7 linked regions of the Homo sapiens genome follow. The gene in region 5 interacts genetically with the main gene of each other region. Each region holds a gene or a part of one and is shown on either strand. Other genes may lie near its edges. The genes, in order: CUL4A, CUL5, CTNNB1, SEC31A, EP300, ETS2 and MEF2C.

Region 1 (4,218 bases), on a different chromosome or scaffold from region 5:
ATCTACAGCCAGCACTGTCTCTTCTCACATCACAGCTACTTCCTAACTAGCAGGTTCATCAAATGATTGTCTGTATTAGCTCAACAGACACGTGTGTGAATGTCAAATACACGTCTATTTATAGTGTCAAAGCATTGCCTGGAGTGAACTCACTGCTACTTAAACAAAATGCTCACTGCGGATAAGGGCAATCCCTGCTCTCAGATGTGGAAGACAGAACAAGGAAGGCCATGGAGCTGTGGGACATGACCTCCATAGTCACACAGAGACCTCCACAGCCACATGGGACGTGACCTCCATAGTCACACAAAGACCTCCACAGCCACACAGATGAGACCTCCATAGTCACACAGCGACCTCCACAGCCACATGGGACGTGACCTCCATAGTCACACAAAGACCTCCACAGCCACGTGGACGAGACCTCCATAGTCACACACGACCTCCACAGCCACATGGGACCATGGGACGTGACCACCATAGTCACCCAAAGACCTCCACAGCCACACAGACGAGACCTCCATAGTCACACAGAGACCGCCACAGCCACATGGACGAGACCTCCATAGTCACACACGCGACCTCCACAGCCACACGGACGAGACCTCCATAGTCACACAGCGACCTCCACAGCCACATGGGACGCGACCTCCATAGTCACACAGCGACCTCCACAGCCACACAGACGAGACCTCCATAGTCACACAGCGACCTCTACAGCCACACGGGACGCGACCTCCATAGCCACACAGCGACCTCCACAGCCACATGGGACGCGACCTCCATAGTCACACAGAGACCTTCAGAGCCACATGGATGAAACCTCCATAGTCACACAGAGATCTCCACAGCCACACGGGACGTGACCTCCACAGTCACGCAGAGACCTCCACGGCCACATGGGACGTGACCTCCATAGTCACAAAGAGACCTCCACAGCCACATGGACGAGACCTCCATAGTCACACAACAACCTCCATAGTCACATAGCGACCTCCATAGGCACACAGTAACCTCCATGGTCACACAGCGACCTCCACAGCCACATGGGACGTGACCTCCATAGTCACACAGCGACCTCCACGGCCACATGCGACGTGACCTCCATGGTCACAGAGACCTCCACAGCCACATGGATGAGACCTCCATAGTCACACAGCGACCTCCATAGTCACATAGCGACCTCCATAGTCACACAGCAACCTCCACAGTCACACAGCGACCTCCACAGCCACACGGGATGTGACCTCCATACTCCCACACAGACCTCCATAGCCACACGGACGAGAGAGACCTCCATAGTCACACAGCGACCTCCACAGCCACACGGAACGCGACTTCCATGGTCACACAGTGACCTCCACAGCCACACGGGACGCGACCTCCACAGTCACACAGCAACCTCCACAGTCACATAGACAAGACGTCCACAGCCACAAAGGACGAGACCTCCATAGTCACACAGCAACCTCCACAGCCACACAGACAAGATGTCCACAGCCACATGGGACGTGACCTCCACAGTCACACAGCGACCTCCACAGCCACACGGGACGAGACCTCCATAGTCACATAGCTACCTCCAGAGTCATATAGCGACCTTCACAGCCACACAGGATGAGACCTGTGTGGCTGTGGAGGTCCCATTCCTACGCTGGGCCTGCAGCTTGGGTGTGAGGGAAGGATGCCACCTAATACAAAGGACTAACCTCTCTCTTTCACTGACCATTATCACCTGGTATCAACATGTCATGAAGACAACTACTCCGTGACTCAAGAAAGACAGCCTGGCTTTCCTCAGAACTTGCATGTCAGCCGGGTGCAATGGCTCACGCCTGGAATCCCAGCACTTCGGGAGGCCAAGGCAGGAGGACTGTTTGAGTCCAGGAGTTCCCAAGGAGCCTGGACAACATAGGGAGGCCACACCTCTCTCTCTCTTTTTTTTTAAAGGGCCTGAGAGGTTTGTTTTTGTGCAACAAAAAACAAAAAAACCAGTTCTAAATCAAAACACAGCCTTTCTCTGAAACCTTTCTAGAAATGCAGTCTTCAGTTTTCTGTTGTCTCATTTAGCAACAAGCAGGACTAAAACATAGAGACACAAGACACAGAAGATGCACTTTCTTCAGGAGTTAGTTATTACAGACCGAAATTCAGGTCGTTCAATGGAAAAGATCCATGCCTTCACAACATTCTCCTCTACACACTACAGGAGGAAAATGATAAAAACAAAGTAACAAACAGAAACAACAGGCCAGCTGAGGCCCAAAAAGTGTAAGTGACAGGACTCCTAAGGTGTTTAGACGTAGAGGGAGAGTGAGCAAAACCAAAAACCAAACACGAAACCAAACCTTTCAAACTTGGGTGAGAATTGGTCCTTTCACATAAGATTCTTTGGCAAAGTATACACCACCCCACCTATACAAAAACTGAGACTTTATTTTGAAACACCAAGTCAAATGTATTGCCTGCTTGATCAGACATCAGTAATTTCACATTTGCTTTTCTTAGATTTCTATCCCATTTGCTTCCAATAGATCTGAGGCAGCTCATGCTTCAGACTCTGTGAGAGGCCAGAAGCCCACCTGTGCGTGGAGAGATGATCACAAGTAAGTGAATCAACTGATTCCACATATCCCCTGGTGGGGCAGCACCTCCAGAGATGCCCCTGGAATTTGCGATGTCTCATTCCAAGGAGGAACCAGTGACTGTCATTTTGGGGTAAGCACTCCTAGTTCTCAGGGTTTCAAGACAGACACCTAAGGCACCTACAAACATTGTTCATAATATCTAGTGATTGTTTTATAAGACATATCACTGTGTACAAGGTGTTGCAAAGTAATTCCGCCTTTTTAAGTAAAAATAATGAGGCAGCAGATATCAGACAGCCAAATCTCCAGGAAAAGAGTAGTAAGAAGCTTTAGCTGTAAGGTATCATATTTTATTAAACCAAAGACCTCTGAGAGTTCAGGTGGGACTCGTTTCTAGTCAAGACACAGTACAAGAACTGTATTAACTTTCTGCCTGAAATAACCACAAAATCAGGCAAAATATACGAAGCAACAGTTTTCGAAGCACTGAGTACTGGGCTATGAAAGACAGTGAATCTCAGAAAGATGGGAGACAAACAGGCCCCAACTGCTCAGCTTCCTGTGTGAAGAGCTTCCAGGTTGTGGTGTGGGGGCCCTGAGTAGCTGGGACTACAGGCATGCAACACCCCACTAGGCTAATTTTTAAATTTTTTGTAGAGATGGGGTTTCACCATGTTGCCTAGGCTGGTCTCGAACTCCTGGGCTCAAGCGATCAGGCCACCTCAGCCCCCCAAAGTGCTGGGATTACAGGTGTGAGCCACTGAGCCCAGACTCTCAATACTGTTAAGAATTTAATTCTCCTACATTGATCTGTAGATTCTATATACCGTCAATCAAAATCTTAGCACACTTTCTTATACAAATTGGCCGATTCTAAAATTCACATGGAAACACAAGGGACCAAGAATAGCCAGAAACCTGTGCAAATGTATGAAGCTGGGGGGCCAACACACCCTGATTTCACAACTCACTCCTCCTACTCCTACGTGGTTTTTGACAAAGGAGCAAAGGCAATTCAGTAGGGGAAAAGAGACTGAAAAACTGGACATTTGCAGGGAAAACACTGACTCTAGACTTTTCTTTGTATTTTTTTGAAATGGAGTCTCACTCTGTTGCTCAGGCTGGAGTACAGTGGCACAACCTCGGCTCACTGCAACCTCCGCCTCCCGGGTTCAAGCGATTCTCCGGCCTCAGCCTCCCAAGTAGCTGGGATTACAGGTGCCTGCCACCACGCCCGGCTAATTTTTTGTACTTTTAGTAGAGATGGGGTTTCACCATGTTGGCCAGGCTGGTCTCAAAATCCTGACGCTCAGGCGATCTACCCACCTTGGCCTCCCAAAGTGCTGGGATTACAGGCATGAGCCACTGCACCCGACTCTGACTCTAGATTTGTATTTCACAATATATACAAAAATTCACTCTACATAGATCGTAGACCTAGATGTAAAACCTAAAACTCTAAAATGTCTGGAAGAAAGTATAAGAGAAAACTTTGTGACCTCAGATTAAGCAAGATTTCTTGGATACTAAAAGCACAATCCATAGAAGAACAAACTGATACATGTGACTTGAAAACTTAAAACAATTACTCTTCAAATGGCACAGTTAAGAGAATCAAAAGACAAGTTGA
Region 2 (4,218 bases), on a different chromosome or scaffold from region 5:
GTCGAATGCAACCATCTCTCTAGGACAGTACACTGAAGGAGGGGAAGGCCGCTCTAAGGCCCATGTCCCTCTTAGATATACGTTTCAAGAGGGCAATTTCTATCAACCCAATGAAAAATTGACAAGTTCTTAATAAGGTTCTCATTTATGTTTAACTAGACATATTAAAAAGAATTCTCTGGTTATGCACCTTAACCACATTCACCGATGATATTCAAATCTTCGTATCACATCCATATTCCTTGCCAAGCATGATCCTGACTCTGTGCTTTCACACTGGCTGTTCCCTCTACAAGGAACTCTTCTAAATATGTACATGACTTGCTCCCTTGCTTCATTCTGGTTTTACCTCAACTATTATCTCCTCAGAGGCATTCCCTCACTATCTTATCAAAAATAAGCCAGCTGTGATGGCTCATGCCTGTAATCCCAGCACTTTGGGAGGCTGAGGTGGGAGGATCACTTAAGGTCAGGAGTTCAACACTAGCCTGGCCAACATGGTGAAACCCCATCTCTACTAAAAATGCAAAAATCAGCCGAGCATGGTGGTGGTCACCGGTAATCCCAACTACTCGGGAGGCTGAGGAAGGAGAATTGCTTGAACCCAGGAGGTGGAGGTTGCAGTGAGCCAAGATCGTGCCACTGCACTCCAGCCTGGGCAAGAGAGTGAGACCCCGTCTCAAAAATAAAAATAAAAATAATAATAATAATAAGAGCACCGAGCACTCTCTCTTTTACCCTGGTTGTTTTTATTCATAGTACCTATCACAACTTGACTTACAGTATGTATTTCACTGTTTATGTTTATTGTCTCTCTTCCCAACAAAAATGTAAATTATACAAGGGCAGGAGCTGTCTGCCTAGTTCATCATTATCTAGTTAGAATTAGGAAATACTAAATTCTCGTTCAATGAATAAATGTATTTCCCATAGACTTAATTACTCCTGCTATGGTTACGGTTTCAATGAACAAGATGTCACTGGCACAAATGCCCCTCATCCATGGCCAATCTCACAAGCAGATTATAAATATACAGAAAATATAATAACTTTTATTTATGTGTAAAAGCCAAAAATAGATTGAGGGCTTGAGAGTATCTCTGCCCACATATTTTTCAAATATTCCTCAGTAACTATAGAACTTTATTTCAAACCCCTTGCCTAGCACTGAAGGCCCTTTGTAATCTGACCCGACTTCCCTTTCACTCCTATCCCTCTTGTTGTTTCCCTGTATTCTGGGTTTCTATGCTGCAACAATCCCAAGGAACACTATTCATATAGAATATCTAACACAGCATGCAGCCCTGCTTACACTGCAGCCACACTGATCTAGCCTAGATTCCTACCAAATTTTCTCCTAATTACCAATACAAAAAGCTTACCCATTATTCAAAATCCAGCTCCAACACTTTATTCAAAATCCAGCTCCAACACTTTCTCCATAAAATTTTCACTGATCATCCCACCAGAAATTATTTCCTCAATCTGTGAGGGAGCATAGAGCAGTTGGTAACACATCTGAAACTTTTGCCTTATCATAAATCATTAGTACCTTTTACTCTCCTTTAGCATATGGTAAATTCCCAAAGAGCATGGACATTGTTCTACATATCTTTGCATTCTCCATGGTACCTTGCATATGGATGTCAATAAAGTTATTTTAATAATGAATAACTTTTACAGGCACTTTTTATTGTTGTTGTTTTATAGAGACAGGGTCTTGCTACATTGCCCAGGTCGGCCTCAGGTAATCCTCTCACCTCATCCTCCCAAAGTGCTGGGATTACAGGCATGAGCCACCATGCCCGGCCTCTATAGACACTCTGAATCACTGCTTTACATTTCCATTTTCTTTCCTCTTAAAGGATAAAAAAAAGTCCACTGAGAAAAGTAGTATGAATCATATTTCAGTTTAAAGTTTGATTTATCTTGTGGTTCGGTTATATACTACTGCCTTCTTGTGCCTCCATCTCACTAGATCCAATCAGAAGGAGAGAGAATGAAAGTTAAGAGTTAGTTATTAGGGAGATGACGACCTCTGGCATGCTAGTGAGCCAACAAGTAACCAGCTAAGTAGGAGTGTGTACGCACACATGTATGAGAGAGAGAGACAAGAGACAGAGAGAGAGAATACTAGTTATCAGGAGAAGACCCAGCTGGAAAGATCTCAAATAATTTGAATCATCAAAGGTATCTGAACAGGAAAGTGATATGGTGAGAACTGCATTTTGATCTAGAGCTCAGATCAGAGCTAAGAGATAAAAATAGTGAAATCATGGGAGTTAAGACTGTCCCAGAAAAAAATATACAAAGATAGAAAAGGGCTGAAGATAAAATCCTGAGAAATAATTCTATTGGGGACAGGGGAGGGAAGTCAGTGAAAAACAAACGTGATTTGAGAGAGAGAAGACCAAGGAGGGAATGTCATAAAAACCAAAAGAGAAGCAGAGGAAATGAGCAATAATACCAGAAAAGAGGATAAATATTATCAGAGAAGAATCTCATTTGATAATCAGGAGGTTGCTAATACTTTTATGACTGACAGGTTCTATACAATTGGGTGGGAGAGAAGAGTAAGCCATATCATTAAGTTAAAGGGCAAAGAATTATAAAGGCAGCAAATGGGGGCTGCTTTTCCAAGAACTGTGACAGTGAGAAACAGAAGTTTGAGGCAGAGGCAGAGTACAAGTTTGTATGAGGAGGCAGAGTGCAGTGGCTCACGCCTGTAATCCCAACACTTTGGGTGGCCGAGGTAGGCGGATCGCTTGAGGTCAGGAGTTTGAGACCATCCTGGCCAATATGGTAAAATCCCGTCTCTACTAAAAATACAAAAATAAGCTGGGTGTGGTGGCGTGTGCCTGTAATCCCAGCTACTCAGGAGGTTGAGGCAGGAGAATTGCTTGAACCTGGGAGGCGGAGGTTGCAGTGAGTGGAGATCCACACCACTGCACTCCAGCCTGGGCAACAAGAGCGAAACTCCATCTCCAAAAAAAAGAAAAGTTTATATGACGCGACATATGAACTTTCTTATAGGCATAGGAGAAAAAAGGGAAACTGAAAAAAAAAAAAAAAAAGTAAGAGGGGACATACCACCAAGTCCTGGGGGGAAGATGAGGACTGAAAAAGAACAAGCAGAATGAGACAATTTGGGAGGTAGCATGGAACAGAGAAGAACATAGGAGAAACAAGAAAAATGTTTGGTATCGACCAAGGAAGTTAAGGGCACTTCAAATAGCTGGGTAAAGTAATGTACTAAGAATTAAGAGGGGTGAGGCTCAGCAAGAAAAGGTTTAAACAATTGCTGTTTGGGGTGGAACAATAAACTGGAAATGAAAAAAATGAGCACTAAGGGCCCAGATGATAATTGCAAAAGAAAAGGAACAATCACAATTACATGTTCAAAGTAATCTAAAACAGAAGATAAAATTATAATATCAGATCCCTACAAATGTTCTACAGACTCACTCTGTAAGGAAAAACAACAAAGATAAAGTAGTTACATGGAAAGGTTTTCAGAGATACAAAACCCCTAAGCAGTTAACTGTATATGTCAAAATGTGCTACACAAATCTTTACATAGCTGAAAGACTTCTAAGATCCAGCAATAGTCCACTTGCTTTAAACAGACAATAAAATTATTAGAGTCAAATTCCAATATTAAAAAAGAAAAGCAGCTAGACATGGTGGCTCACGCCTATAATCCCAGCACTTTGAGAGGTCGAGGAGGGTGGATCATGAGGTCAAGAGATGGAGACCATCCTAGCCAACATGGTGAAACCCTGTCTCTACTAAAAATACAAAAATTAGCTGGGCGTGGTGGCGTGCGCCTGTAGTCCCAGCTACTCGGGACGCTGAGGCAGAAGAATCGCTTGAACCCGGGAGGCGGAAGTTGCAGTGAACCAAGATCGCACCACTGAACTCCAGCCTGGCAACAGAGCGAGACTCCGTCCCCCTCCAAAAAAAAAAAAATTAAAAAGAAAGAAAAGCTGGTGGTTTTTTTTATGACATTGGCTTCTAACTTCTAAGTTACACATCAAGAAAGTTCACTAGAGTCACTGAGTCACTTACTTTTTTTCAAAATATTATCACCTTCCCTTTATTTGTAAATGTTCAAGTTAAAACACTTTTTAAATTCTTGTGAGCTTTTAAACCTAAACCCTAAGTACCCCGTTTTCTGTATATTCAGGCAGTTTTCCCATTCACAGGTCTGTGCTGTGG
Region 3 (3,720 bases), on a different chromosome or scaffold from region 5:
AAAAACCCAAGTAACACACTACTCACTGGTAATTTGCTTTTTTTTTTTTTTTTTTTTTGTGTTGGAGTCTGGCTCTGTCACTGAGTGCAGTCTGTTAACTCCTGGGTTCAAGCAATCCTCCTGCCCCCGTCTCCCCAGTAGCTAGGACTATAGGCATCCATCTCCATGCCCAGCTAAAGATGGGGTTTCACTATGTTGCCCAGGCTGATCTTAAACTCCGGTCTCAAGAGCTGCATCGTTGTAAACCTAACAATCTCTCTTTCCATTCACTCAACAAACATAATCCACTGTATGTCTGTGTACCATCAATGATCTCTATAGAATGGATAAAATATCAGGATGTTCTAGTTTTATTAGAAACAATGTTTCAAGGAACCACCTGTACTGAGGACAAATGCTGAAGAAAAATTCATAGCAGAAATTCAAATAGAAAAGTTTTATTAAAGTTTAGTAAAAAATACTGATAAACTGTCCTCTTAACAGTGTTTAACACTGCCTCTTTCCTTACATCCTTTTGAAAAATCTTCTTTAATCTGGTAACATTTTTCATCTTTCTCCCTTATGAATTATAATTTTAAATAACACAACTTATTTGTAATGATTCTGAACAGACTCTTTAAAGCTTGTATTATAGTTCTTCCTCAGAGCAGTTGCTAGACAGCATAAAGAAGAAATACTCAAGCCAGGGAAACATCAATGCAAATGAATGTGTACTAAGTGTTTTGAGAGGAAAGAACAAGCTGCCATACCTGCTCTAGGAAACTACCAGATAAATAACTGCTCACATTTCCCTACCTCATTCCAAGCCATTGGCTCTGTTCTGAAGAGAGAGCTGGTCAGCTCAACTGAAAGCCGTTTCTTGTAATCTTGTGGCTTGTCCTCAGACATTCGGAACAAAACAGCAGCTGCATATGTCGCTAAGAGACAAGGAGAAAAAGGCCCTTGAGGAAAAACTGAGACTTCAATGTACACATCTGCTAAAGGCTTTGGTTCCTTTTTACTTACCCACACCTTCATTCCTAGAGTGAAGTAACTCTGTCAGAGGAGCTGTGGCTCCCTCAGCTTCAATAGCTTCTGCAGCTTCCTTGTCCTGAGCAAGTTCACAGAGGACCCCTGCAGCTACTCTTTGGATGTTTTCAATGGGAGAATAAAGCAGCTAAGGAGAAAACACAAACAAAACCTAATTAAATCTAAAGCTAAAACATGGCAAGCCCCCCACTGTGGTGCAAACATTCCCAATTCAGAGTGCAAGAGGCATTCACACTGTAGTAAATAATATTCTCTGAATTTTATGTCTTGGGGTGTTTAATGCTCTGGAGCACTGGATTTCCATAATATTTTTTAGCTATAAACCCTTTCTTCAGAGGCAGCTCTAACTGATCTAAGATTTGGAAAACCCAGAATTGGTTGGGGGTCTATGCCCTGCCTCTGGCAGCCCAGGTCAGCTCTCCCCTCTAGGCACCCATAAAAGTGAAATGTGAAATCTCCTCCCTCTTCTCAAGTCTCAATGTTTCTCTTACTGACCAAAAAATGTAGGGAATTTTCATAAAATTAAATGTTGGTAACCCTATTATGGTCCCTAATTTTCTGAAATGTTATTAGTCATTACAATCTGGAAATTTTATGGACATAAAACCTAGAACACTTCACTTAAAACATACCTGCACAAACAATGGAATGGTATTTAGTCCTCTGATAACAATTCGGTTGTGAACATCCCGAGCTAGGATGTGAAGGGCTCCGGTACAACCTTCAACTATTTCTTCCATGCGGACCCCCTCCTGCCAAAAGAAACATGGTTAACAAACAGGGCATTCTCCTCTGTAAAGTTTGAGGAACAATTATTAGACTGTAATTATTTACATTATATACCCGAAGTTCCCCGTAACTTGCAATTAGTTCAGGAAGGAAGAAGGATTCCATTAACTTGAATGTCACTGAAAAGAGGCCTCCTGGCAGCACTAATTCAAAGCAGCACCCCTCCCCCATACACAGTGCAACAGAGCTTCCATACAGCGCTGAATCCCAAAGACAACTTTCCTACAGTAAGGGCACCAATCATTCTGGGTAAAAGGTATATAAAAAGAGAAGATGAGAAAGTAATGCTCAGACTATGTCAACGTTTTTCTTTTACATGCCCCCTCTATTTTTGTATATCTTCCATGTATTTGGTGAAAACTTTGCCAAGTTTTAGCACCAACTGCTAAAACTAACCGAGTTGCCAGCAGAAAAATTCACTCCTCACTCTTCCAAGACTATTCAGCTGACAGCCTCATGTATAGAAGGAAGATAGCTTTTGCAATATGTAAGTACCATCTGTTTCTCCTGTTTCTGGATTTGAGTTTTAAAAGGGGTTATTATTCTGCTACATTTAGCAGCTTTTATAAATAACTTGATTCTTACAAGGACACAAAAACTCTCTTCTTCCTAGAAAAGAGATTTAAAATAAAAGGTGCCCTCAACGTTCTATTAAGTCACCTCATGGAGATGGGCCAATACCAACAGTAATAAATGAAGAAAGCCAAAGCCCCAATATGAGTACATACACAAAGCAACCAGCAAAATGAGATTCCTAACATCTGTTCTGGTAGGCTCCATCTTTGTTTTCTAAACTAACCTAATAAGGTCTTAAAGTCTGAGAAATCAGAAATGTCATTAGACTATACTTTTAATGAAGCTACTTTTAAGACACAAACTTTGTATCAAAGCTTCAGGTTGAGATTTTTGTGGTTAAGAGTACAGAAATGCTACTACTTATTTCTGAATATTCTTAGGTCCATGAAAAAAGTTTAACTCACAGAAAAGATAATAAAACGGACTGCTAAATATTTATAGTCAAAATGCATGATGAGGCAAGGGTAAGAGGCTCTGAAATTACACAGATTTGATCTCAAATTATGACTCTACCTCTTCCTAAGGAAGTGGGCCTTTGTGTAAATTAAATGAGAACACTTTATGAAACACCTAACCCAACCTTTGTAAGACTGACCATGTGAAGGACGTGTCCAAGGAAATATCACTGGGGCCACACTATGCCTTATTTTCTCTGCAGCCATAGAAATGTGTAATTATTTATTTATTTACTTTGTCATTAGCTCTTCAGGAAGACGGATGGGGGGAACCAATGACCAAAGAAAGAAGTTCAGGATCCTTTGGATTTATGCATTCCTTTTAGATAGCCAGGTATCACTGTAAGAATTTACCTACCACAAATTGCTGCTGTGTCCCACCCATGGACGTACGGCGCTGGGTATCCTGATGTGCACGAACAAGCAACTGAACTAGTCGTGGAATGGCACCCTGCTCACGCAAAGGTGCATGATTTGCGGGACAAAGGGCAAGATTTCGAATCAATCCAACAGTAGCCTGAAAAACAGAAGGAAGAACTGGCATACAACTCAACAAAATCATTTTCTTACCCTAAAATTCCCACCACACTAAATCTATTGGTATCAACTAAAAGTAGTTCTGACTACACAAACATTTCAGAATCTTACCCCTATCGCAGCCATACTTCCTACTTACTAAGGAATACAATTCCTACTTATTGATCACTATGCTTAGACAGCCATCCAACAGCTAGAGATGCTTCATTTTCAATTCTGCAACAAAGGTAAATTCTACTTTGACAATTTACCTTTATCAGAGGCCAGTGGGATGGTGGGTGTAAGAGCTTAACCACAACTGGTAGTCCATAGTGAAGGCGAACTGCATTCTGGG
Region 4 (4,218 bases), on a different chromosome or scaffold from region 5:
GCCTCAGCCTCCCAAGTAGCTGGGACTACAGGCGCCCCACCACAACGCCTGGCTAAATTTTTGTATTTTCAGTAGAGGTGGTGTTTCACCGTGTTAGCCAGGATGGTCTTAATCTCCTGACCTCGTGATCTGCCCGCCTCGGCCTCCCAAAGTGCTGGGATTACAGGCATGAGCCACTGCGCCTGGCCACTTTTCTTTTTTTTAACTCATTATTTCTCAAATTTGCTTTCTAGAAACAATTTATCCTTATTTATGGACTTCTGAACGAGATATAAGGTCAAAAAATGCACAATTTATTAGGTATTGAGTGCCTTCAATGTGTAAGCTACTATGAAACAAATAGCTCATTGAGACAAAGGGGAAGATTTTACCTCCTTAAACACATTTTTTCAAAGAACCAAAAGTACACATTGATGACTACTATTTCATTAAATGCATATATTTCTTACCTATTATTCATGAGTGCATTCCCAAATGATCTTCTATTTGATAATACATAGTCTAGTTGTACATAAATGAAAGTACATTTCTCTATGTATCTTACAATTCTGTCTAAATATTCTCAAAATTAGTTCTTTTCTTTTTTAAATCAGACAGGGTCTTGCTCTGTCACCCAGGCTGGAATGCAATGGTGTGATCATAGCTCACTCCAACCACGAACTCTTGGGCTTAAGTGATCCTACCTCAGCCTCCCAAATAGCTAGGACTACAGGCATGTGCCACCACGCCTGGCTAATTTTTTATTTTTTTTTTTAGAGATAGGGTCTCACTATGTTGTCCAGGCTAGTCTTGAACTCATAGCCTCAAGTGATCCTCCCACCTTGGCCTCCCAAAGTGCTGGGATTACAGGCATAAGCAAACATCATGCCTGGCCTAGTTCAAAGTTTTAGTAAAGATTTTATCCATATCCTTTATTCCCTTGTTAATTAAACTCTAGGAGATCCACTTCTAAGGAGAATGATTTTTGCAATCATCTTGTAATAGACTAAATTTACTTATTTTTATAACTTAGTAAAAAATTATACATAACATTCCATAGTCAAGATATCACAAAGAACAATGAAAAAGCCAAAGATGAGATGAGAAGAACTTGTTGATTAATTTTCCAAGATGAAATAAAATTAGAAAGCAAGAAAAGTAAATTACAGATTTGTTCATTAGTGGTTAAAAAAAAAAAAACACCCAGAAAATTAAAAGGAAAAATTAATGATGTAACTCTGTGTTCAAGGACTCTTCTCAATTATTTACAAAAATTATCAACTAAGGACACATTTATTGAAAATCATGACAATAAGTTTAGTGAAATATCCTTTACTTCAACTCCATGTTCAGTACTAATTCAGAGGCCTATTAGCCACTGATAGTTGGCCCAAAATTATAGGCCAAGAAAAACATTAACTTTACATGCAATGCAATGCAGTGAGGATGTTTGAATAAAATCTCTTTTCAGTTTGACATCCTGAGAGTCATCTGACCAAATTATGTTAATCTCACATCAACTGTTAGTTTTAAACCATATAATCCAGAAACAAGGTTGGAGAACTAGAGTCTGGAGATGATACTTCTGTCAGTATAGGTAGATAGATTCCTATCCTAAACATCTCAAAGAAAACAATTTACTTCAACTTTATTTTGCCATAAGTAGTCAAGAAAATTTTCCTTATTTTAATGTGAGATACACAAATATCACAAATTTGTCCAATATAATATGAAAAAAAAATAAGTACCTCTCCCAAGAGCTGCTCTTCAGCAGCAGGGCTCTCCTCCCCATCACTCTGTGCTACTTGGTCAGAGTCTTTAAGAGCCTTTGGTACACAAAACAATTACAGGGGAAGGTGAAGAATGTAGTATTAAAAGGCTATTAGTGAACCAGGAAGACAAAAGACCCAACCAACAACATTCAGAGCTAGTTTAATCATAAGAAGCAACAGTGAGTAAATTTATTTGAGAAATACCATTAGAGGAAAAGCAAAGAACTATTACTGCTAACACTTTCCCATTCTTTTTTTTTTTTTTTTTTTTTTTTTTGAGACCGAGTCTCACTCTGTCGCCCAGGCTGGAGTTCAGTGGCACGATCCCGGCTCACTGCAACCTCCGCCTCCCAGTTCAAGCAATTCTCCTGCCTTAGCCGCCCAAGTAGCTGGGATTACAGGCATGTGCCACCACGCCCAGCTAATTTTTGTATTTTTAGTAGAGACAGGGTTTCACCATGTTGGTCAGGCTGGTCTTGAACTCCTGACCTCAGGTGATCCACCTGCCTCGGCCTCCCAAAGTGCTGGGATTACAGGCATGAGCCAACACACCCGGCCCACTTTCCCATTCTTTCCTACCATTTTTTTTTTCCTGGCCAAAAAAAAAAAAAAAAATTTTATCTTAAGTATTTGAGTAGTCATTAATTCTGTTTTTCCTGCTTTACAAAATTCAAATATGTATGTCAAGAGAAAGGAATGCTCTACCAGCTAAGCTCATGTTATTTTAAAATGAGAATTATTAATTTATTAAAATATCTAGAATAAGCATTTATTTTTATACCATAAAGCATAAAACACAAATTTCTTAAATGATATTTCCTTCTTCGTTATGACCTAGCCAAAGTTTTAGAAGGTAGCTATTTTTAAAGGCCTTCTTACCACATTGGCTCCATCCACTTTGTTCAAGGCCAAAGCAATCTGAAATAAAAATAACAGCTCACCTACTACATGGAATTCTATTTCAGAGCATCCAGCAAATGTTCACCTCTTGCTTCTCACTGGCGAAAATCCACAAAAGTTCTTATAGGAATAGTATGTTTAAAAAAATTAAAAAAGCTATGCAGAACTGGTTCTCCATGGTGCTAGCTTCTTTCACATGGAAGTAATTAGAAATAATCCGACAATCATTCTATTTCCTCATTTTTTGCCATCAGGCATGCAAGTAAAACTTTCATATCAATCTCTTACAAGCCTAAAAAAGTTACAGCCTCAAGAAGTTTAGACTACTAATAAAGTTAAATATAAAACTCTAAAGGAGTGAGCAAAGACATAGCCACTAAGCAGTGGGGTTGTGATGTGATCTTAGTTAGTTCTGCCTGACATCAAAAGAGCACTAATCTTCAATATGCACTTAAAGTGCACAGTATACCTCTACCACACATGCAACAACCTGCAATGCTATAGAAAACTCTAGCCATTTCCAAAGAATGATGAAAGGCTAATACAAGTTACATAGTCATTTATCAATATGTATTCAAAACTCTGGCAACCACTGTGGGTAATGATGGAGAATAAGAAAAAGAAAAAGGGAAAAAACGCTGGCAACCAAACACAAATTATTATTAAATGTTTATTGGGTGATTTGAGATAATCTGTGTAGAACTTTATTTTTTAAAAGTATGATTCATAAAGAGCATGCCATCTAACTTTCCCAAAAGTTTACCTTCTTTCCTAGATCTTCTTTTCTGTATCCTAGAAGTTCAAGGTATTTTCCACGAGAATCATCCTCAAAGTTTACCTTTAAAAAAAAAGACATATTCTTAAAACAAAGACCTACATTTAAAGGCCGAATTTTTATAAGAATGAATCAAATTCCAAAGAGAATTATTAAAAATATCTGAAGTCTACATTCTAAAGATTCACTGTTTGAAGGAATCCAAAGAATAGTGGGTTTTTTTGTTTTTTATTTGGAGACCCAGCCTCAGGAGGTCCTGAGAACATGTGCCCAGAATTATTTTTTTAAATAAGTTATTTATTAATAGTAAATATACTAGTAATTAATTATCCTGGTTGAATAAAGCTTACTTTTGAACAGTAATTTCTGTAAATACAAACTTATGTCCAAAGGTTAAACTGATACAAAACTCAAACTATGTGGAATATTCTATGTCCTAAAATTCTTTCCCAAAATTATTACAAAATATAAATTCTTTAATTTTATACTTTAACCTAACTGTATTCAAGACTGCTTTACCTTTGAAAAACCAGTACCGTATAAAGAAACAGACATTCCAGTGGAGGCAAAATGACCAACCAGGAAATTCTATTTGTTATTCTAATCTAACTCCTCTTAAAGTAAAAGGAAAAATGCCTCCAACCTCTCTCCTCTATTCCTCTTCCTCTTTTTTCATTTTCCTTAACTAGATCTACTATAGATGTTAAATATTCTGTTTTCATTATAGTAAACTCTATGTACTCATCTTCAAAATAGGTGTGCTGACTATGTCGCTCTCCTCTAAACAGACCT
Region 5 (4,218 bases):
CAACACACAAGTTCAGCAAAAACCAACACCATGGATTTGGTATTAACAAACAAATAAAGGGTATTAATATCATCCAGCCTTGTTATTATTGTATCAGAGCCCCAAATAAACACCCAATGCAAGCTATACTTGTAGCTGATCACTGAAAACAGGAGACAAATTGTGGTTAAGATAGATTAGTGAATGAGATTTATGTGATTACAGCCATTGATTGGGCAGGAGAAAATTAGGCAGAGGTGCCTCGTTTATTAGACTCAAATCATCCTCTGTCACATACAAGGCTGGGTTGGGAAAAGTAAGGTACAGAGAGCTATGTGAGGTTTTCCTTTTAATTTGCTTAATATGAGGCAAAGAAAAGACTCCAGAATCCTGTTTTCATATATTCTAATAACAACTACTTAGGGATAGGCCTCATCTAAAAAGGAAATATTTCCAAAAAGCTGTCTAGCGAGTTTCAGTTAAAAGTTTAAAAATCTTCTCAGTTTTGCCTCAGGCTGTGGTGATCAACAAACACACAGTAGAAAGAGAAGTGGGGCCTGGGATATAGACCCATCTAGGCCAACAACTCACAAAGTTGCTTAACTTCTCAAGCTCTTGGGAGGAACCCAGGTAACTGATGCAAGGCTACTCTGATAGAAAATTTTATTGTTCTGCAAACAAAGGCAGAAGGCAAAAAACAGAACTTGTGCTATACAGCTGTCTTCAAGCAAGATACACATGAACCATGACTGTATGTGTGCTGGCCCATCCGCATGCACTCCCTGGACATGTGGACACATGGACCATGGTCCACACCTGGCCAAGCTTACCTGTTCTGGTAACTGTAATAAGTGGCATCACGAGGTATTGTGCACAACTGTTTGCCGTAGCAACACAGTGTCTGTGGAGAGAACTCCAACTGCAAAAGAAACCATTTGTTAAAAAGCACAGAGGCCTTAAGGACAAGCTAGAACAGTAAGAATGGCAAGTCAGAAACAGAAGTCAGTGGTGTCTTAGTTCTCATTTATGTTAATAATGATGGGCTAATTCAGTTCCTGAAAATCATTCTCAGTTTACTACCACATTATTTCAAAACGCTGAGGTAGGCTTAGCAGTCATATCCTTCCATCACTTTACCAAAGAACCTAACAGGAATAGCTGGGCAGGGTGGCACATGCCTGCAGTGCTCAGAAGCTGAGGTGGGAAGACTGCGTGAGCCCAAGAGTTCCAGACCAGCTTAGGCAACACAGCAAGACCATAGTCTTATTTTAAAAACAAAAAACCAATAATGTGAATTGGTATGTACAGGAAAGCCAGCACATGCTGAGGAATCTGCACCCACAGGTGAATATAAGAATGCCCCTACTCCAGATGAGTTAACAGTCTGTTGATTATTTAATTAGTCAACTTTTCCATACAATTGCCACTCTGAAAAAATGCCTTTAAAGAAAGCCCATTTCATATTAAGAGATATTACTACTGTGGCACACAGTAAGAGAAAGACTGTGTTGGCTGGGAGAGGTGGCTCATGACTGTAATTCCAGCACTTTGGGAGGCCGAGGCAGGAGGACTGCTTGAGCCCAGGAGTTCAAGACTAGCCTGAGCAACATCATGAGACCCTGTTTCTACAAAACAAATTTAAAAAATCAGCCAGGCATGGTGGCGTACGGCTGTAGTCCCAGCTGCTCAGGAGGCTGAGGTGGGAGAATTGCTTGAGCCCAGGAGGTTGAAGCTGCAGTGAGCTATGACCTCACCACTGCACTCCAGCCTGGGAGAATAAGACCCTGTCAAAAAGGAAAAAAAAAAAAAAAAAAAAAAGCCATGTCAAAGCCAGAAGCAGGATATTCTCTTATCCCAGTCACCACTATATTATTCTAGGTATCCCAGAAAAGTTAAAGTCAAATCTGAAACACATTTCTTACCTTTCTGCCACAACAGTATCCAAGGCTTTGCATCACTGGGTCAATTTCTTGTTCAAAGACCTCAGAGAGCTTGGAGCAGTATTTGTATACCCGTGATGTTTTCCGGTTATATAACCAGGCATTATTGAACATAAGCCAAATATCATCGACATACTGCCAGGGCTCCTGATACTGTCCAGTGTCTAACTTCCTCTTAATGGTAGAAAGATCCATGGGGCTCTTCACAATATCAAAGTAATCCTAGAAAGACAAGTGACATCAAACATTACTCAAGTCTCACTATTTTTACGGGAGATGGAGTATCATCCATTATCATTGTTAATTTTCCAGGCAGTGTTTTAGTTTCTGGCCTGTCTATATTCCCCAAGAGGTGACTGATGTCCATCACTTCTTTAAATATTAGTTTACAGAGATATTAAACTACTCAAAGGGCAGAGAAACAGAACTACTATGGACTTTCTAGACATCAGGCTGATATTCTACTGAAGCAACTTCAGGTTCTTTATGAAAGTACATGTGAGATCAGTAAAGTCAAAGACATTTAAAATTTTAGTACTAGAAGGGGTGTACAATGAGGAAACTAAGCCCACAGAACTTAAAATGTTCCATCTGAAATCACAGCAAGATACAAGAGAGGAAAAGTCCTAAAAGGCTTTTGCCCCTGGAAGCACTTGACCTTTGAGATGGAGTCTCTGTCAACATGTTGCCCAGGCTGGAGTGCAGTGGTGCAATCTTGGCTCAGTGCAACCTCTGCCTCCCAGGGTCGTTCAAACTATTCACCTGCCTCAGCCTCCCAAGTAGCCAGGATTACAGGCGTGCACCACCACGCCCAGTTACTTTTTATATTTTTAGTAGAGATGGGGTTTCACCATGTTGGTGAGGCTGGTCTCCAACTCCTGAACTCAAGTGATCTGCCTGCCTTGGCCTCCAAAAGTGTTGGGATTACAGGCGTTAGCCACCGTGCCCGGCCAAGTAACAGTTTAAAACCACCAAATGAAATCTGCCAGCAGCCTAGTATATGGAGGCAACTTTAAAAACAAAGCTAACCACGGTCCTTTTTTCTGCTATGACCTATTGCTCTTGAAACAACGAAAGTGGCCGGGTGCGGTGGCTCACGCCTGTAATCTGGGCATTCTGGGAGGCCGAGGTGGGTGGATCATCTGAGGTTGGGAGTTTGAGACCAGCCTGACCAACATACAGAAACCCCATCTCTACTAAAAATACAAAATTAGCCGGGCATGGTGGCACATGCCTGTAATCCCAGCTACTCGGGAGGCTGAGAGGTAGGAGAACTGCTTGAACCCGGGAGGGGGAGGTTGAGGTGAACTGAGATTGCGCCATTGCACTCTAGCCTGGGCAACAAGAGTGAAACTCCATCTCAAAAAAACAAAAAACAAATAACAACAACAAAAAAGTAAACAAACTATATAACCCAGGAATTCCACTCCTAGGTAAATACCAAGGAGAAATAAAAACTTAAATCCACACAATGTTCACTACAGTCCTATCTTAATAGTCAAAACGTGTAAACAACCTAAATGTCTATCAACTCATCAACAGGTAAAGAAAAATAATGGAATATTATTGGGCTATAAATAGGTATGTGCTACTGATTCATGCTACAACATGGATGAACCTTGAAAACATTATGCTAAGGAACGTCCTGGCACAAAGAATCACATACTGTATGTTCCAATTTAATGAAACATGTAGAACAGACAAATCCAGAGACAGAATGCAGTCTGGTGATGTCTAGGATTGGGGTGCTATGGGAGAAAATAGTGAGTGACTGTTAATGGTAAAGGATTTTTTTCAGATGATGAAAATGAAAGTGTCATGCACAACTCTGTGAATATACTAAAACTCCCTGAATTAGGCCAGGCCCAGTGGCTCACACCTGTAATTCCAGCACTCTGGGAGGCTGAGATGGGCCTATTGCTTGAGTCCAGGCGTTCAAGACCAGCCTGGGCAACATGGCGAAACCCCGTCTCTACTAAAAAATACAAAAAACTAGCCAGGTGAGGTGGCACATGAATGTAGTTATCCCAGCTACTCAGGATGCTGAGGTGGGAGAATCACCTGAGCCCGGGAGGTGGAGACAGTAGTGAGCCACGATCGTGCCACTGCACTCCAGCCTAGGCAACCAGAATAAGACCCTGTCTCAGGGGGAAAAAAAAAAAATCACTGAATTACAAATTTGAAATGAGTGGCTATACTGTTTGGAATGTGAATTATCTCTCAATAAAGCTGTTATCAAATTAAAAAATAAAATCAAAAGTACCACCAAATACTTACAGGGATTCCTAAAAGCTGAGGG
Region 6 (4,218 bases), on a different chromosome or scaffold from region 5:
CCATATTATTTGAGACTGGCTCTGCTGCCCCTCCCTAAGCCAGTTTACATTCTTTGAGATTCTTGGAGTGGGTGAGTCAGGGCTGAAGACTGCACAGGCCATGTCCCCTGCTCCAACTATTCCTCAGAACGTCCCAGGTGGAGGGAGTGGCCTGTCAATTTTCACTCATTCCATGGAGCTCTGTGTACATGAAAATTCCTCCAAGTGTGGCTTTTGTCGAATTCAGAGATACAGCAAGCCACGCATAAAACATGGAGTGTAGAGCACTGGTGTACCTAGCTTAGAAACACCCTCGGTGAATGTGGTACTGTGGCTCGAAAGGAAGCAAGGGACAGGACCCAGGAGACTGGGCGGCCAGGCTCTCGGAGTTCCACACACACCTGTGAAGCCGGCCAGCACAGCTGCAGGTATAACTGGTTTGCCTTGCTCCACTGGGTCACTCCTCTCTTGGATGTAATCCTTGAAAGACATGGTTGGCTTATTGAGGCAGAGAGACTGGCTGCAGTCATCTTCGAAGCTCTCGAAGGAAGGAACCCGTTGCACATCCAGCAAGGACGACTGGCTGTTCCAGGACTGGAGGAGGGAGTCTGAGCTCTCGAAGCTGTCCGCACCGTTCTCAGGGGAGTCGTGGTCTTTGGGAGTCCCTGGCAAAGACAACCAAACACATACTTTGATTCCTCCAGGACACAGTTGGTCTTGGGCACGACCATAGCATCACCAACCACTACCAGTGCAATCATGCACCTGCTGGTGTAGAACCACTCAGACTTCTCAAAATGCTCTCTACTCAGGTGCTTATTCCTTAGGGTAACTATACTACACAAATCCTATCTTCCATCAACAGTAGAATGAATAAAATTCTTATAATGGAATACTATACAGCGATGAAAAAGAACACATGGCTGCTACATCCAACAACATGCATGAATCCCAGACATGATGAGTAAAAGACAAACACAAAAGAAAACATGCCTTATGATTCCATCTATGTAAAGTTCAAGAAAATCAAAACCTAATCCGTAATGATAAAAGTCAGAATCGTTCCCTTCTGTCGGGGGGACATTATTGATGGGAAGGGGTACGAAGGAATCTTCCAGGCTACTGGAAACTTCTCTATCTCCATCTGGATGGTTATTACATGGGTATACATACATACACAAATCCAACCAGCCACATGACCTGAGACTTGTGCACTGTATTTATGTTACATCTCCATAAGAAGAAATGTCACATTCCTGCATCGCCTCCATAAATATCCCAAAGTGTGGAGAAATCTGGCTGTAAGAGCAGGGACTGTTTTGTTTACTCAATGCCTGCAGTACCTGGGCCAGTGCCTGAAACATATTAGGGGTATGCTTGTTGGAAATCCACTTAGAACATGGGCTTTGACCCCCTTCTCTAATGGCTGAATCCAGGAAGTATTTATTAAGAGGTTCATTATGGCTCTGGGGTTCTCAGAATCAAAGCAACAGCCTTGTTGAAAGATGCTTCCAATCTTACCAGAATTGTTGGTGAGCAAATTCAAGTTGCTGCCTGGGAAGTCCTGACTGACAGAGCAGTAGGTGACGCTGACGGAGCTGAGCCGAGACTTGGGGAACATCTGAAACTCCTGCTCAGAGCTGAGTACGCTGGGTGTGGAGGCCGGACACATGCTGTCCAGGAGGCCGCCTTTGGGGTAATTCTGTGTCTGCATTCCATAGGGCGCCTGCTCTGTGCCAAAACCTGGAACAGAACAATCGGACGGCAGAGCTCTTAAAGTCAGTGTTACCCCAGTAACTAACCCCTACGAGCAAATGACAGGTGAGCACTCCGCACACTCCAGCCCTCTGCAGAACCTCAGTGGAGACCCGGGCTTTGGTGGGGGTCTGTCACCAGGCCTTCTTCTCAAACCATTCAGCTTCTCAACCAGCAGCCCTCTGCCAAAATGACTGCAGCCTCTGCAGGCAGGACTCAATGTTCCTATTTCTACAACCCTAGTGCTTTCATGGGACCTTCAGGAAGACAGGGCTCACTGGCTCTTTTAGCTTCCGAGGAGAGTAAGGCTCAGACAGACCAAGTGACGTGTCATGTACTGTGTGATTCATAAGGGCAGAACCAGGCCATGAACCCTGTGTGCTGAGGCACAGCCCACTCTGCTTTCTGCTCCTTCATCACACCGCTCCTGTCTCTGTTCATTGCAGAATAATTTATTTTCTGGAGAGGGAAGGAAGCTCTCTGACTCTGATTCAGGTTCAGGCAGGCACAGGGTGTCCCACTGTCATGTTCAGAAAGACCTCCTGAGCAGGAAGCCCCCAGTGGGGCAGAGAGGTGGGCTTCACCGGGTCTGAATGGTGGAGCTGGGGCCAGAGAGAAAACACTGGGCCGGACCAACACCACCCAAGCCTGCTGTTCCGAGGACCCCTCCCTCGCTGGCCTGGCCAGACCCTGTGCCCTCCCCAGTATCAGCAACCAGAAGAAAGGACCCAGATTCCATGACAGCTCTTTAAGCTCCCAAGTTCAGAGCCAGTTTACAAATTGCTTTTCACGCACTCTGTGCCTGCCGCCTCTTGTTTGCTACACTAAACCAACATTACTGGTGACTGCGGTAATCAGCTCACTTCGTTCTGCTCCTTGCTCTAAGAATTGCCTGGACTAGCACTAACAGTGCTGACCTATGGAAGATCGTGTGAGCCACTTAAGCAACTGCGAAAGTTCTAGTGGCCATATTAAAAAAGCAAAAAGAAACAGGTGAAGTTAATTTTCTTATTTTACTTGGCCTCATATAGCAATTATCATTTCAATATGTAATCAATACATTAAAAATTATCAGGGAGACATTTTATATTCTCTGTTTCATACTAAGACTTCCAAATCTGGTGTGCATGACTATACTCTTCCTACACATCTCGATGTGGACCAGTCACATTTCAATGGCTTATAGCTCAACACCCACGTGTGGCCACCATAAGAGACACACAGGTCTAGGTGGCCCCTTAGGAGCCTACAGTAGAGAGATTCCAAGTCTACTGGGAAGACTGAAGACAAAGTTCTTAAGGGCAGAATCAATCGGACTGACCTAATGTATTGCTGTTAATCCAATGAGGAACGGAGGTGAGGTGTGAATTTTCTTCATATTGATCTTCTGTCTTTTCTTGGTTTTCTGAAAAGCAGACACAGGAGACGTAAGATGGCAGATGTAGGTGAAAACTACACAGAACAAATTGACTTTCTGAATTCCTGTGAGATGATAATTTTAGAATGATGAGATGCACGGAGTGCTTCACATTTAATCTCATGGTGCTCCACGTCCCTGCCTGTCTTTTTCAAAAAACGAGAGAAAGCAACCCATTTTTCCAATTACTAAAATAAATTTTCCAAAATGAATGATGTCATTGGCAACACTAAATTTTCTATCGCAAAAGGTCCAGATGGTGTATTGAATTCATTCATGCATTCAAGAAACAGTTAAGTATTTATGAAATGCCATCTGTACCAGAGGCTGCATACAGGAAATTAATAAAATGGATGGTGTCTGCCCCCGTGAAGCTTACAGTTCCACTGCTTCCAAACCTGCACGCTTCCCCAGGGTGTGGGAAGTCTCCAGGGCTGTGGGAGTCTGGGATGGGGAACACATGTGCCCAAGAACTTTGAAAGGGAAAAGGTTTGTGCACTGTGTATGCATACTTACTACGAATATATTACAAAGTGCACGTCCACCCGGAAACCCAAATACACACAAACTCACAGGCCCGAGGAATGGTAAAACAGGCCCAATTTGCCAATAAACAGATCACCAGAAACTTGGTAGAAAAGCCCTGTCCAAGTTCAGAAGAAATGAGGGTCTTTAAAAATGAGTTTCCCTGGCCCTCAGACGCCGTAACTAAAAAAAGTTAGCTGTTGAATCCTAGGTGTTTTCGAGATTCTGAGTCTACAGTTGATGCTGAAATTCAGTGTGTTTAAAATCAGTCAGGTGAGGACTAGTTCCCTGAATTCTATAAACATGCTTATTTTCTTATATTTTTTTAACCTAAATAATCCCTACTGTATTTTATTTCTTTCCCTCCCTCCCTCCCTCCCTCCCTCCCCTCCCTCCCTCCCTCCCTCCCTCCCCTCCCTCCCTCCCTCTTTCTTTCCTTCCTTCCTTCCCTCCCTCCCTCCTTCCTTCCTTCCTTCCTTCCTTCCTTCCTTCCTTCCTTCCTTCCTTCCTTCCTTCCTTCCTTCCTTCCTTCCTTTCAACAG
Region 7 (4,218 bases), on a different chromosome or scaffold from region 5:
TAGTTTTATTCAAAATTTTTACTGCCTCCGCCTGGAAATTAGACTATCAAACTATATTTAACCTAACCTTTTATAAGTCATCTCTACTCAGAGTTATCTCTCTCAGTATGTACTGAACACCCACATCAACAAAGTTGACGTATGGAAATGCTTCCAGAAAACAGGCTGCCCTTTTTATAGGTGGTGGTTTAGAAAAACACTAAAACTTAGTGTTACACTAAATCAAATATTAGTATTCAAAGGACTTTCATTAACTCTTGATGGCAAGTTCCTCTGTCAGCCATCTCTCTCCCTATAGCAAATAAATTTGTGTTGCTTACTTAGCTTGGTTAGATAAAATCAGATACTAGGTTTTAAAAGTATAGCTTTGAAGACTTAAAGCTCCAAAGGACAAAATGAACTTTTTTTCCATGGACAAAATATGAAGAACTCTGTTTATGGTTTTGCAATTTTGAGAAAGAATTGTGGTAACCATCTTGGGCTGCTGGGAATATCTACTTTGGTGGAGCTGAAATATATTCCACTCTGCTATGAACATTGTCTCTAGCCAAAAGAATGTGAGCCCGCAACACAAATCTCTGCGACAACTTTGGCCTGGAAAATGTATCAATTCTTTTTAAATTGATTTACACTGTAAAGAATTAAGGATGCTCATGTGAATTACTTTACATAAGTATTGCAGCTTGGGATTTTTTAAAAAAACAGTTTAACATTTAATCGTGTGAATATGAGGTAGTCCATGTGAAGGAACCTCCTTTCAAAAAGCTACTCTGTGTGTGATTGTGAGAGGGAGAAAAGAGTGTGTGTGAAGCAGAGAGAGAGAAGGGCCAACAGTGGAAGGACTGGAAGGGTCATTCCATTGATTTGAGGGGTAAGGGAAGTGATTAAGTGCAATTAAAACTCACAGAGAAAACTAAGAGTCAAATTAAGCACAACGAAATTAAGTGTTGAAAGGAACCGGGAGCTGAACAAAATGCTTAACCTTTGGCTGTTGTAATTCAGTTCCTTTCTGTCTAAGGCTGTCCCTCCTTTCTCATTTTCTGAAACCTCTATTAGAGGCAGCAGAGAATTAGATTCTTCCTTGTAATAGAAAAGAGTTTTAAAATTGTAGTACAGCTAAAATATGTAAATAAATATGTGTTTATATGTAAAAATATAAATTATCAGGTACTATTGAAAACAAAAAAAAGCCACATTCAGAGAAAATAATATGGCTTTTGACATTGATAACTTTTAGGGAAATCTAGCCCTATAATGGATGAATTTTGTGAAAAAAATGGGAAATAAGCAGTTATGTTTATTTTTGACAAGAATCATGTTCAGTGGATTCCCTGCTAAGCCATAGCAGTTGATACTTTGTACAAAATATGTATACATGTACATATTTTTTAGTTGCCTGGATGGAATTATGTGCTTGGTGATAATTACCTGAAGAAGTTCCCACAGTTAATGTCTACTTGAATAGTTAACATTCCAGAGAAAATTTAAGTGTCCTAAAAAGATAAAACTCTGCGCTGATCAATATGTAATGTATCTTCAAAGTTAACTATCTTTCAAGAAAGCTGACCAACAGTATCACGTGAATTTATCTTACTATTTAAATGAAAGGTTAGATTTTCAATGACAGTGATTAGCGGGTAGGATGAACATAAGCAAACAGTGTACGGGTGAATATTTCATAATCAGATCACTAATATATGCTAAATCACTATCATGTGAAAGCTAGTGGGTGGGGGGAGAGAGGGCACCAGCAAACATAAGAGACACAAAGTTGTGGTATAAATCAGTGACTTTTATACTAATCAGTGTTTTATTCTCACTGTCTCCTTAGACATATGGATATATAACTAGTTAACTAATACAGCTAAGTGATTAACGATAACAAATGGCTAAGCAGAAAAGTAAAAGTGGGCTAGGCAGACAGAATATTTTTAAAATATAAAAGCTTGTTATCTTTAAATATTTTATATCCTCCTGGTATTTTCTTTTGAAGATTAATTGCAATTTTGGACTTATTAAATTTACAGTCAGGCTTTCAGTTAACGTTTTAAGCTTTTTTAAAAAAATGATTTGTTTTATATGAAATAGTGTGAATTGTGAATTCAGAGCTTTTTAAAGGTTTGAACGTTTCCATAGATAAATGACAAGAGTCATTTCTATGATAAAGACATATCTGAAAACTACCACAAGGGGGCAGAAAGATACATCCTCTGACTACATAAAACAAAAATTATTTTTATATCCAAATTTAGGTAATTAGTATTATATGTACTAGTTAGTATTATATACATATATTTCTTAAAATATCTATAAGTATACAACTATACTATGAGTACATTATAAATACATGAAGCCTGTGTATCAATTGACTAGTTGTTCCTATGTGTATTAGGTTAACATTAGCATAAACCATATGGTTTATGTGAAAAAAGAAAAATTCTCAAATATCTAAGCTTATACTATAAATGCCTTCTTATGTCCCAAATGAACTGTGTGAAAACTAAATAAAAATTATATCACTGATAGAAGTGGAAACAAATGTAGCCTAAAACAATAAGGAAAGAATTTACCTCATTATTACAGAGCTCGCTGTCCTCTTAAAAAACAGGTATATAAGATTTAAGCTACTTGAAAAGTATTGATCTGAAAATTACACTTGGATTTCAATAAAGTAGAGTTTTATACCCGTTAATGGGATATTGAAGCACATATTTAGAGACTGTCATTTGTTTTTCAAAATACATTCTAAAATTATATTATAAAAAATAATATTGCTTACCCCAACTGACTGAGGGCAGATGGTGGCATGTTATGTAGGTGTTGCTGTTGCCAGCCAGTTACTGAACCAAGGTGAAGAGCGCTGGCGGTGTTAAACCCAGACAGAGATGACAGGTCTGCACTACTCAGAGAGTACTCTAGATTAAAGAATAAAACAACAAGGGAAAATATTAAATTTAGAAATTATCAAATGGTAAATAGAATAAACATTTTCAATTTCCAAAATATTCTATTAGGATTATCGTTATTATAGATATTTTTAATTTTGAGGGGAGGGGAGATAAAGCATCAGCGATAATTCTAATTTAAAAGGAATATACTATAAACCAAAAATAAGTATTCCACGAATGCTCTGAAGTAGCATAGTCCGCAATTCTAGTTTATTAGAACTACAATCTAGTATAAAGGTATGTACATATTTGATGATGTAGAAATGTTAAACAATCCTGAGAAAGTGAGCTTTTTATTACATCAAAGAAACAGCTCAATTTTCTTGAAAGTGTGTTTCTATTTTGAACTCAGGTTGCATAAATAAAACTTTCAGTCAGTTAAGAAAGAAAAATGTGGATATTCACTTTGTCTTAGTGAAGAATGGGTAATGCTGCAGTGCTGTGGACGGCGCAGGCCCTAAATAAAGCTTCCTAATAGAGTAAAAGATAACTTTTTCATCTTGATTTTCAATAAAAAGTATTTAGTGTACTAATTGCACATGACAAAGCTACTCACCGGTACCATATGTTGTTGAAATGGCTGATGGATATCCTCCCATTCCTTGTCCTGGTAAAGTAGGAGTTGCTACGGAAACCACTGGGGTAGCCAATGACTGAGCCGACTGGGAGTTATTTATCCTTTGATTCTTTTAAAATAAATAAAAAGACATTACTGATGAATTTTTTTAAAAGTTAAAAATATTAGATTTCAGTATTAGTTTTCCACATAAAGAGATAACTTGGTACAAATCTCATGAAATTAATCATTTAACATGTGTCTCTATGAACTCTGCCAACCCTATCATTTACAATCCTTCAAGAGACCAGCTGTTGCCATAGTAACCCATTACATCAGTATCTCCTAGGCAACTGAACTAGTAACAAGTACCATAGCTTTATTATGGGTAAAAACAGACTATGTTGAAAACTGATGAAATATGTATACTGTACTTCCATTGTTTCAGTTTTCATTCAAATGCAAATTAAAAAAAAATTAAAATCAACCATGGTAGTTTTTATGTTCAGTTCTACATACAGCAGAGAGCAAATGAGTAGGGGCTCATGTTATATTTTGACCAGCAGGTGGTGCTGTGACCACTTTGTTCAGATTCTTCTAAACTTCCCTCAAACTAGATGGCAAAGCAGCTAATGCGAATATTTAACTCATTACAGTAAAGAGATAAAAGATCCACCACATAAACTTAAAATCATGAGACTTTAATTCCCAGAA

The links.
Region 1: changes in EP300 (region 5) and CUL4A together harm fitness more than expected from each alone (negative genetic interaction), as found in Homo sapiens cells (one large-scale study listed by BioGRID).
Region 2: changes in EP300 (region 5) and CUL5 together harm fitness more than expected from each alone (negative genetic interaction), as found in Homo sapiens cells (one large-scale study listed by BioGRID).
Region 3: of EP300 (region 5) and CTNNB1, changing one enhances a phenotype caused by changing the other (phenotypic enhancement), as found in Homo sapiens cells (2 studies listed by BioGRID).
Region 4: changes in EP300 (region 5) and SEC31A together harm fitness less than expected from each alone (positive genetic interaction), as found in Homo sapiens cells (one large-scale study listed by BioGRID).
Region 6: of EP300 (region 5) and ETS2, changing one enhances a phenotype caused by changing the other (phenotypic enhancement), as found in Homo sapiens cells (one study listed by BioGRID).
Region 7: of EP300 (region 5) and MEF2C, changing one enhances a phenotype caused by changing the other (phenotypic enhancement), as found in Homo sapiens cells (one study listed by BioGRID).

Annotation. Positions count from the first base shown.
Region 1 is NC_000013.11:113,212,248-113,216,465, reverse strand, and holds part of CUL4A (cullin-4A), read right to left. Parts: intron 1-4,218. UniProt on the Homo sapiens protein: Core component of multiple cullin-RING-based E3 ubiquitin-protein ligase complexes which mediate the ubiquitination of target proteins. As a scaffold protein may contribute to catalysis through positioning of the substrate and the ubiquitin-conjugating enzyme.
Region 2 is NC_000011.10:108,011,380-108,015,597, reverse strand, and holds part of CUL5 (cullin-5), read right to left. Parts: intron 1-4,218. UniProt on the Homo sapiens protein: Core component of multiple cullin-5-RING E3 ubiquitin-protein ligase complexes (ECS complexes, also named CRL5 complexes), which mediate the ubiquitination and subsequent proteasomal degradation of target proteins.
Region 3 is NC_000003.12:41,233,785-41,237,504, reverse strand, and holds part of CTNNB1 (catenin beta-1), read right to left. Parts: coding exon 3,638-3,720; intron 3,367-3,637; coding exon 3,208-3,366; intron 1,782-3,207; coding exon 1,662-1,781; intron 1,157-1,661; coding exon 1,006-1,156; intron 918-1,005; coding exon 796-917; intron 1-795. UniProt on the Homo sapiens protein: Key downstream component of the canonical Wnt signaling pathway.
Region 4 is NC_000004.12:82,859,904-82,864,121, forward strand, and holds part of SEC31A (protein transport protein Sec31A), read right to left. Parts: intron 3,490-4,218; coding exon 3,415-3,489; intron 2,670-3,414; coding exon 2,631-2,669; intron 1,806-2,630; coding exon 1,728-1,805; intron 1-1,727. UniProt on the Homo sapiens protein: Component of the coat protein complex II (COPII) which promotes the formation of transport vesicles from the endoplasmic reticulum (ER).
Region 5 is NC_000022.11:41,155,092-41,159,309, reverse strand, and holds part of EP300 (histone acetyltransferase p300), read right to left. Parts: coding exon 4,197-4,218; intron 2,142-4,196; coding exon 1,902-2,141; intron 899-1,901; coding exon 810-898; intron 1-809. UniProt on the Homo sapiens protein: Functions as a histone acetyltransferase and regulates transcription via chromatin remodeling. Acetylates all four core histones in nucleosomes. Histone acetylation gives an epigenetic tag for transcriptional activation.
Region 6 is NC_000021.9:38,815,929-38,820,146, reverse strand, and holds part of ETS2 (protein C-ets-2), read right to left. Parts: intron 3,140-4,218; coding exon 3,056-3,139; intron 1,723-3,055; coding exon 1,501-1,722; intron 645-1,500; coding exon 381-644; intron 1-380. UniProt on the Homo sapiens protein: Transcription factor activating transcription. Binds specifically the DNA GGAA/T core motif (Ets-binding site or EBS) in gene promoters and stimulates transcription.
Region 7 is NC_000005.10:88,725,714-88,729,931, forward strand, and holds part of MEF2C (myocyte-specific enhancer factor 2C), read right to left. Parts: intron 3,635-4,218; coding exon 3,505-3,634; intron 2,916-3,504; coding exon 2,780-2,915; intron 1-2,779. UniProt on the Homo sapiens protein: Transcription activator which binds specifically to the MEF2 element present in the regulatory regions of many muscle-specific genes. Controls cardiac morphogenesis and myogenesis, and is also involved in vascular development.